Homo sapiens: one gene and its partner. The protein of the gene in region 2 purifies or fractionates together with the protein of the main gene of each other region. This does not show direct contact. Each region holds a gene or a part of one and is shown on either strand. Other genes may lie near its edges. The genes, in order: ARHGEF35 and HPS4.

Evidence for each region.
Region 1: the proteins of HPS4 (region 2) and ARHGEF35 purify together in Homo sapiens (co-immunoprecipitation; one large-scale study listed by IntAct). This does not show direct contact.

Annotation. Positions count from the first base shown.
Region 1 is NC_000007.14:144,192,964-144,197,284, forward strand, and holds the start of ARHGEF35 (rho guanine nucleotide exchange factor 35), read right to left. Parts: upstream 2,871-4,321; 5' UTR 2,575-2,870; exon of another isoform or gene 2,358-2,574; intron 1-2,357.
Region 2 is NC_000022.11:26,459,768-26,463,582, forward strand, and holds part of HPS4 (BLOC-3 complex member HPS4), read right to left. Parts: intron 1-3,815.

The DNA of each region.
Region 1 (4,321 bases), on a different chromosome or scaffold from region 2:
CCGTTGCAATCAGGCATGACAAAGCTAAAATGTGACAAAGTGAAAGGAAATCTGTAAATCATGGTCTTACTCACGTAAAGGCATCAGGAGAGAGTTTTTTGCAATGCTCATTACGTTAGAGTGCAAACATCCTCATCTCCTTCTCCACTGAGGGTGAATAATCACTGTTTATCTGTGTACAGGCAAAGCCAGGGCATGGGATTATGGGGATACGGCCTTGCTTCAGACCACAGACATTCTGCATCCACATAACCTCACCCACGTGTGACTTCTTGAGAGGCAAAGCTTCAAGTCATCCCTTTAACATAATGTGTGACAGAGCTCACTATCTTCCCTAGAGCCCCCCCACCAACACCTTAGCTCTTGTCTATTTCTAGTCACTAGAAACAACACTGTATTTCAAGGATACAACCCCTCCCCAATCAAACTGCCAAATCTTTGAACTGAGACTCAGTGCCATATATATATTTTTGAGGACCATGCTTCCTGGATTTTCTAGCAAGGTTGATTTCAAATATTCTGACTTACAAATCACTAAAATAATATTGAGGTTAAAATAAGATCACCACATAGATATATAACTTTATTCACTGTTTGACATCACTGCCCTCAATACTACAAAGATATCAAAACAGGGGTAGCTTTCTGGACCACTGACTACTACAATGTGTGTTCTATCCATTGCAGGAAAGTCCCACCATGCCAGTGAAAGCTGTAATACACATTTATCTATTCTCTAATGTCTGAAAATGTCACACCAACTGCCTTATAGACCAGATAGTTTATATAAGAACATTATTAGTGTCAATGCTGACTTACACTCTACAATCTCATCTGTGGTCCTGGTGGCATCCACACAGATAACATTAGTGTGAGTGACGTGTTTGTGTATTAACATAGACCTTGAGGGTGACTTTGTTCCAGTCTACCTTGCAGGCACTATAAGTGATCGGCTCCTGCTTACTCCACAGACACTGTGAGTGACCCAGCCCCTGTCTACACTAGAGCTGTTGGTCACCTGTTTGTCTACACCACTGACACTTGAGTAATGCTGCTCCCGTTGAACCCAAGACCCTACGAGTGACTCCATTCCTGTCCATACCACATAGCGACTGACCTCTCCAGACACCACAAATGACGTATTCCTGTCTATCCCACAGACACCACGTGTAACGTGGCCACGGAACCTCAGACAGACCGCGTTAAGGGCACTGATACACTCTCAGGACCTCTAATATATGAACACTCTTCTCTCTATTGAGAATCACTATATTCTGTTGATGAGAGGGATTCCTTTGCACTCCTCCTGATTTCTCTCTCCTCCCCACTAGGACCATGACATACATTCCTCCTGCATATCAGTCTCACCCAGAACTGACACGCCCTCATCCCATCTTCCCAGCTCCCCAGGACTCCTTCACTAGCCATGGCTTCACTTTTAGGCCCACAGATTGGTTAACAAATGACACCCATTTTGCTAAGGCCTATGCCAGGAACTTCTTCATGCTCCAAATGTGGATAAAACAAGACGTCTGAGACAGAGGCCACATCAAGAGCTTTTTAGCTGGAGCTGGGACCTCTGGATTAGGCCCAAGATGCAAGGCCAGACAGTGGAGTGCAGTAGGGGAGCAAGCTAGGGAGGAAGCTCGAAAGGAAAACCACCCTCTCTCATCTGTTTGACACACCCTTCTCTCTCAACCAGACAAGAGTCCTGGCCAGAGTTCACTTCTAGGTAGACAGGAGGGCAAATCTGTCTTTGGAACCCAAGATCCAGGAAGGGAAGAAAGGGACTGAGATCTGGAAATGACGTAGTATCACAACTGGCTCTCCTCCGGTAGTCTTGCCGGAAGGCAACTGCAAAAGATGCTCAGGGGTTCTAGAGCTCTGCGTCCGCATTCTAGCACCCCAACGCCTACCTCAGCCCCCAACTCTAAATAACTTCTTTCCACCTTGCTAAGAATGCAACGTTGTGATTCACATCAAGCTTTAGGAGGCTCCCCATATGTAGGGAACTGGGGTGAGGGGCAGGGCAGGATTCACTGTTCCAGGTTACGGAGCTTTGGTTAACACGGAGAGAAGCTACACATAGACTCACACAGTATGCAAATACCTATGGAGATACATAAGGAAAGGCCCCGGCCTGGTTAAGGAAAAGGAGCCGATAAAACCTCTCCAGGTAAGGAACAGCCTAGAAAGGGAATCTCAGTTATTCCTTCTGATATGGCTTAGCTTTCCCCAGGGCGCCTACTTTGAAGAAAGAGCCCTGATTATTGGCCCGGGGAACGTCTGGGGGCAGGGTGCCCATTTCCTAGGCGGGACCCGACCGGAAGCAAACTTGTAGGCAACAACATTTCCTCTAGTTCCTCTCCTCTTCCCCACCAGGGTCCTCAGCCACACACCCCGAGCCCTGCCTGCGGGCCCAGCCCCCCCATTTCCGGAGCCTGCGCCCCGGACCCAGCGGGGGCTGATCCCTGGGAAAGGCCTGGCTTCCTCTTCCTTCCTGTCCCTGCCCCACCTCCGCCGGGCTCCACAGCCGCCGGGAGCCCAGGGCCGAGACGGGAGGAGGGCACCCACCTGGTCGGTGTCACATGCTGCTTCGGCCCCAGCGTCCCCTCCAGGTCCCGGCGCCGGCCGCAGTCCCCAGAGCCGTCCCCAGCGCAGGCCCGGCCGCCCCACCCGCGGCCCGCCCCTGGCCGCCCGACGGGAGGGAGGGATCGGGTTCTCCTAGGAAGTTTCAGGTGAGGAAACAGGGACACACCTTCCCGGAGGAGGGGCAGGGCCCCTCCGCGCGCGAGCCCCATTGGTGTGAAAGAAGCTCCCGCGTCAGAGCTGGGAAGTGCCGGGCCGGCGGAGAGGGGAGCCCGGGCGCACGGGCCAGGCCGCGGGCTGTCCCAGGGAGCCCCGAGGGCGCGGTGCGCGGGCGCAGGTCGGGCGCAGGCGGGGTGACCCGGGGAAGGGGCGCGCACAGAGACAGAGGGAGCCAGCCGGGCCCCACGGTGTCCTCGGACGCCTCCGAAATCTCCCTGCGTGTTTGTTTCTTCGGAGCTTCACCGGAGCCTGACTCTGGAACCGGCCTGTCTGCCTGCTGCAGTCTGTATGTGTTTGTCTTTTGCCTTGGCCGTGCCTCTGGAAGTCTGACATCCGTGGTTGTACATGTGTCTTTATCTTCAGGCCTCATTGGTTTTTGGTTTGTTCGTTGTTGTTGTTGTTGTTGTTTTTTCTGAGACGGAGTCTCGCCCTGTTGCCCAGGCTGGAGTGCAATGGCGCGATCTCGGCTCACTGCAACCTCCGTCTCCGGGTTCAAGAGATTCTCCTGCCTCAGCCTCCCGAGTAGCTGGGATTACAGGTCCGCGCCACCATGCCCGGCTAATTTTTGTATTTTTTAGTAGAGGCCGGGTTTCGCCATGTTGGCCAGGCTGGTCTGGAAACTCCTGACCTCAGGTGATGCACCCGCCTCGGCCTCCCAAAGTGCTGGGATTACAGGCGTGAGCCACCGCGCCCGGCCAAGGCCTCAGTGTTGATTTCTCTTCCGTGATGTCTCCTCCTATAGAATAAAGAGTGTCTCCTCCATCTCCTCCTCCGCCCCCTTCTTCGTTTCTCTCTCTCTCTCCCTCCCTCCTCCCCCCTCCCTGTCCCTCTCCCTGCCTCTTCCTCTCCCCTCTTCCTTCTCCTACTTAGGGCCTAGAAGTGTGCCTCTCTGAAAGGACATGCCCGTGTCCTTCTGTATTCCCGAGTTTATTTTAGAATGAGTGCGTATCTCAGGGTGTATGTTCCTTCTAGGGCCTGTGTGTGTGTGTGTGTGTGTGTGTGTGTGTGTGTGTATTTAAATCTCTAAGCCCATGTTTGTGTGTTTTCTTATGCCTGTATTTTTTTTTTATTCTTTCAGGGAAACGTTTTGTTCTGTTAGTCTTGGAGGCCAAGGCTGAGTGGGTTTATCTCTGTGCCCCTCCAGTGACTTCAAAGAATGCCAAAAGTCTCTCGAGTGTGCCTGTGTGCACACACAGACACACACAAAGTAGGAATCCTTTACCTGGGGGACAGAGATTTCTGTTATTTTTGGTTGAATCTGACCACTCCCCAAAGCCATTCACTACTCCAGGGGTTTCCATGGTGACATAAGTCAAGTGAAATATTAATGGACTCCTTGCCTATTTAGCTCTTAGGAATGCCATGGTCTACAGCCCAAACAGCTTGGCTAGACCATTTCTAGATCACTGTGCCCATTGGCTGTTGCCAATGATCCTGGTTGAACGTGTTCACTAGTTATTTTGAGGTGGCTGTAGAATAGAATGTAATTAAGGAAGTATAGCCTCTTCTGTAA
Region 2 (3,815 bases):
ACTTAAATGAAATGACACATCCAAAAGTCCTTTGTAAACTCTAAAGTGCTATCCTGAGGCAGAGTCTTTTTATAAAGTCAAGGAAATGAAAATAATCATATAAAAGAAATGGTGTCTCTTTAGAGATCACAGATAATTTGTGGACTATTTTTCAACAGCTATGTAAGAAAAATAAGTGCATATAAAAAGTACAGAGATGCAAACAGAATGCTTCTGAAGTAAATGTCATGAAGCTTACATGTTATTTTGGGAGTATATTGGTGTTAAATCAGTTTTCCTGTATGAAAGTCTCAGAAATGATATTTCAAGTCAATAGGTGTGACATACAAAGTTATTTTCTATGCGCTCAGTTTTGTATCCTCAATGCTTAGTAGAGTGTCTGACTCCTAGTAGGTGCTCAATAAATGAATCCACTAAATGAATGAATAAATGAACACATCCAATGCCAAGCACTGCCAATTTATGAGCTATTTGGTTTAAACCAAGGTTGCAGAGCTATGTAAAAAGATATGTGCTCAGGAAAGACAATCATAATATCTCATGTTCAGATCACTGAGAGAGCCTGACCAACACTGCGTTTAACACTGAGCCTCTTATTTGAACAGATGTGTGTGTGTGCATGTGCCGACACGCACACGGGCACACATAAGCATTCACCTGATGAAGTCAAACCACAGCCTCACTGAAAGTTTTTGGACCTCAAGAACGTGCTAACAGTCATCCCTTCCATGCTGAGCTGGTGTCCAGAGGAAGAAACAATAAGAACAGAGAGTGAGCCATGCCAAAAACTGTTTCCCCACAGGCACGGAGCTTTGCTTCCAAAATCTTCTGCCTAACTTGCACTCAAGATAGGATCACTTAACCATAAAAACACAGTTAATCACAAGATGCTATGTCAGATGACATGTGGATAATTTTTACTGATAACCAAGTGCTTTCATACATACCAGGGGTCAGCAAACTCTAGCCTATAAACTAAATCCAGCCTGTTGCCTATCTTTGTACAGTCTGAGACCTAAGAATGGTTTTTATATTTTTTTACTTGGTTGGGGAAAAAAGTCAAAAGAATAATATTGTAACATGTGCAAATTATATGAAGTTCCAATTCCATGTCCATAAATAATTACTGGAATACAGTCATACCATTTATATACTGTCTATGGCTGTTTTTGTACTGCAACAGCAGAGCTGAAAAGCTGTGCAAAGCTGAAAATATTTGCTTTCTGGTCCTTTACATAAAATGTTTGCCAGCCACCGATATATACTGCTACATAATGTGATCCTCACAACAGCCCTAGGCAACACAGAGCTGAGGCTAATTCCCGGGTCCTCTGACTTCTAGTGCACACGAAAGCAAGTGGCACAAATGTCAGTGTGTGACACAGCGTGCAGCAGGAGCAATGCATGGAACACACATTCACTTAGAGATACCGGTTTCCCAGTTGGGGGAAGGTGTTTTTTCATAAAATGTTTTATGGCAACACTCTCACACTAACTTCAAGCCTCATGTACTGTACACAGAAGCTCCATGTCCTATTGTAGTGATAAATAATTAATCTGATCACTGTGTTTGAAGGTCAAGGAGATTATCTTGGGGTCTGAGTAATGGACTATCAGCGGCTCTATGCTGCCCCCTGGTGTGAGCCTATTCCACTCCCTCTGAGGGAATTCCAGCCCCAATCCCAACCCTCCTGGCTGCTCCACCCAGGGCTCCTTTCACCAATCCCAACCCCTGCTGCCCCTCACCCTACCCCTACTCCCTGTGGAAGCTGATCCACCCAAAGACAAGACAGCCAAATGACACAAGGGCAGCTTGGCAGTATGTAACATCATTAAGGAGCCCTTGCAAAAGGGGTGTGCTCACCGTAACTGGGGGTATTTGGTTTTTCTAGACAGTAGCAGAGGGGCTGCAGGGAAATCAGATAAAGTATTTTCAAGGCTAGTCTGGGACAAAAAGGCAATCAAACACCTCTTCCTGATTATAAAACAGAAATCCTTTGGGTCTGATTAACAAACCCACTCTCAAACCAGTGGGCTGATCAAAGTTAGTCACTCCATACTAGAAAAGATTAGCTTTTCAGGGATGGGTGCAATCATGCCTGTAATCCCAGCACTTTGGGAGGCCGAGGCGGGCAGATTACCTGAGGTCAGGAGTTCGAGACCAGCCTGACCAACATGGAGAAACCCCGTCTCTACTAAAAATACAAAATTAGCCGGGCCTGGTGGCACATGCCTGTAATCCCAGCTACTCAGGAGGTTGAGGTAGGAGAACCGCTTGAACCGGGGAGGCGGAGGTTGCAGTGAGCTCAGATCACACCATTGTACTCCAGCCTGGGCAACAAGAGCGGAACTCCATCTCAAAAAAAAAAAAAAAAAAGAAGAAAAGATTAGCTTTTTCTCTTCCATAAAACTGCAGTCTATTTCCCGGGGCCTAGCCAGCATCAAACCCTGCTTTCCACAGAAGCCCATGGAGGCTGATGTCGTAACAGCATGGATAGACCTTGACAAACCAGGGGATATGGCCATAGAGCACGAGCCACAGAAGGCAGGACACTGACCCCCTTTCTTCAGCTTCCCAGCTATCACTGCAAGGGCAGGGCAGTGGGGGGACAGAGAGGCTGGGGTGGGGAACCAGAAACAAGCAAGAATTCTGGACCTGCCACTTGCAGGAAGTCTTTTCATCTCAATGAGGCTGTTTTCTTACTGGTAAAATGGGAGTTACAATGCCTCCTTCCCAGAACTGTTCTAAGGCTTGGCTAAAACGAGAGATGCGAAGTATTTCACATATAGTTGGTGCAGAATACATCTCAAAGAGCAGCCTGGGCTATTTTTTCCTTTTTGTGGGGGAAGGTAAAAAGAGAGGTATTATATCCACTTTATTGCATTCAAACACTGGGCCCTTCAAAATGACACTTCCAAGGCTCGACACTGTGCAGAACAGACCATGAAAACCAAGGCATTGGCAGGGAGATGAGGCATTTAACACTGCAGCCACAACTCCCCGCACTGCTATAAGAAGGAGATGGATAGTCACTCCTAGCTATGGTGAATGGGGATACAGGAAGCAAATGAGCCATAACTCAGTGATCCAGCGTCTGTGGAAAGGGCACAGAGAAGCCTGACAGCTCCAGAGAGCATTCTCTTGCTAGGAGCTCTGTGCAAGGAAGCTGCTGTGCAGTCTTATCTCTTCTTCTGTATTTCAAGGTGACTAGCTCATTTATGGAGGGTCACAAGCCCTGCATGATAGTAAGATCAGCTTAGAATAATACACATTTAAGAATAAAAACAAGGAAAGCCCCAAGACACCATTTGCCCTGCAGCAATTTCAACCTGCTGTTCTTACTGCTACCACTTTCCCTGCCTACTAAAGCAAGGCTGTTACTATAGCAACGAATCTCCAGCGTGGGCCCCAGGGAAGGTCAGTTTACCACTCTAAGCCTCTAAGCGGGGAAGGGGCTGCAATAGTTTAAGAGCCCTCCAGAGCCAGGCAGGATTTCAGACATCCCAGCCTTCTAGGAAGGAGCTTCAGATCAGGTACGATGCTGGGGCTATGGAGGGAAACACTGGGTTTCTAGGGAACTCCCAACCCAGGCTGTGACACACTGCGGAGGAGTTTCCAGCTGACACAGAACCTAGAGCTGTCCAGGCTAGGAAATGAGGCCATGAGCAGGGGCGGCACAACACATGCACGTACGTGTGCAGTCTCTGCCTGCATTATCTCACTGCATCTGGAACAGGAAGGTCTACCACCATCCCTACGTGACTGAGGAGTTAGCCAAGGCTCAAGGGGACAAAGGTCTGTGGGCAAGTTCACA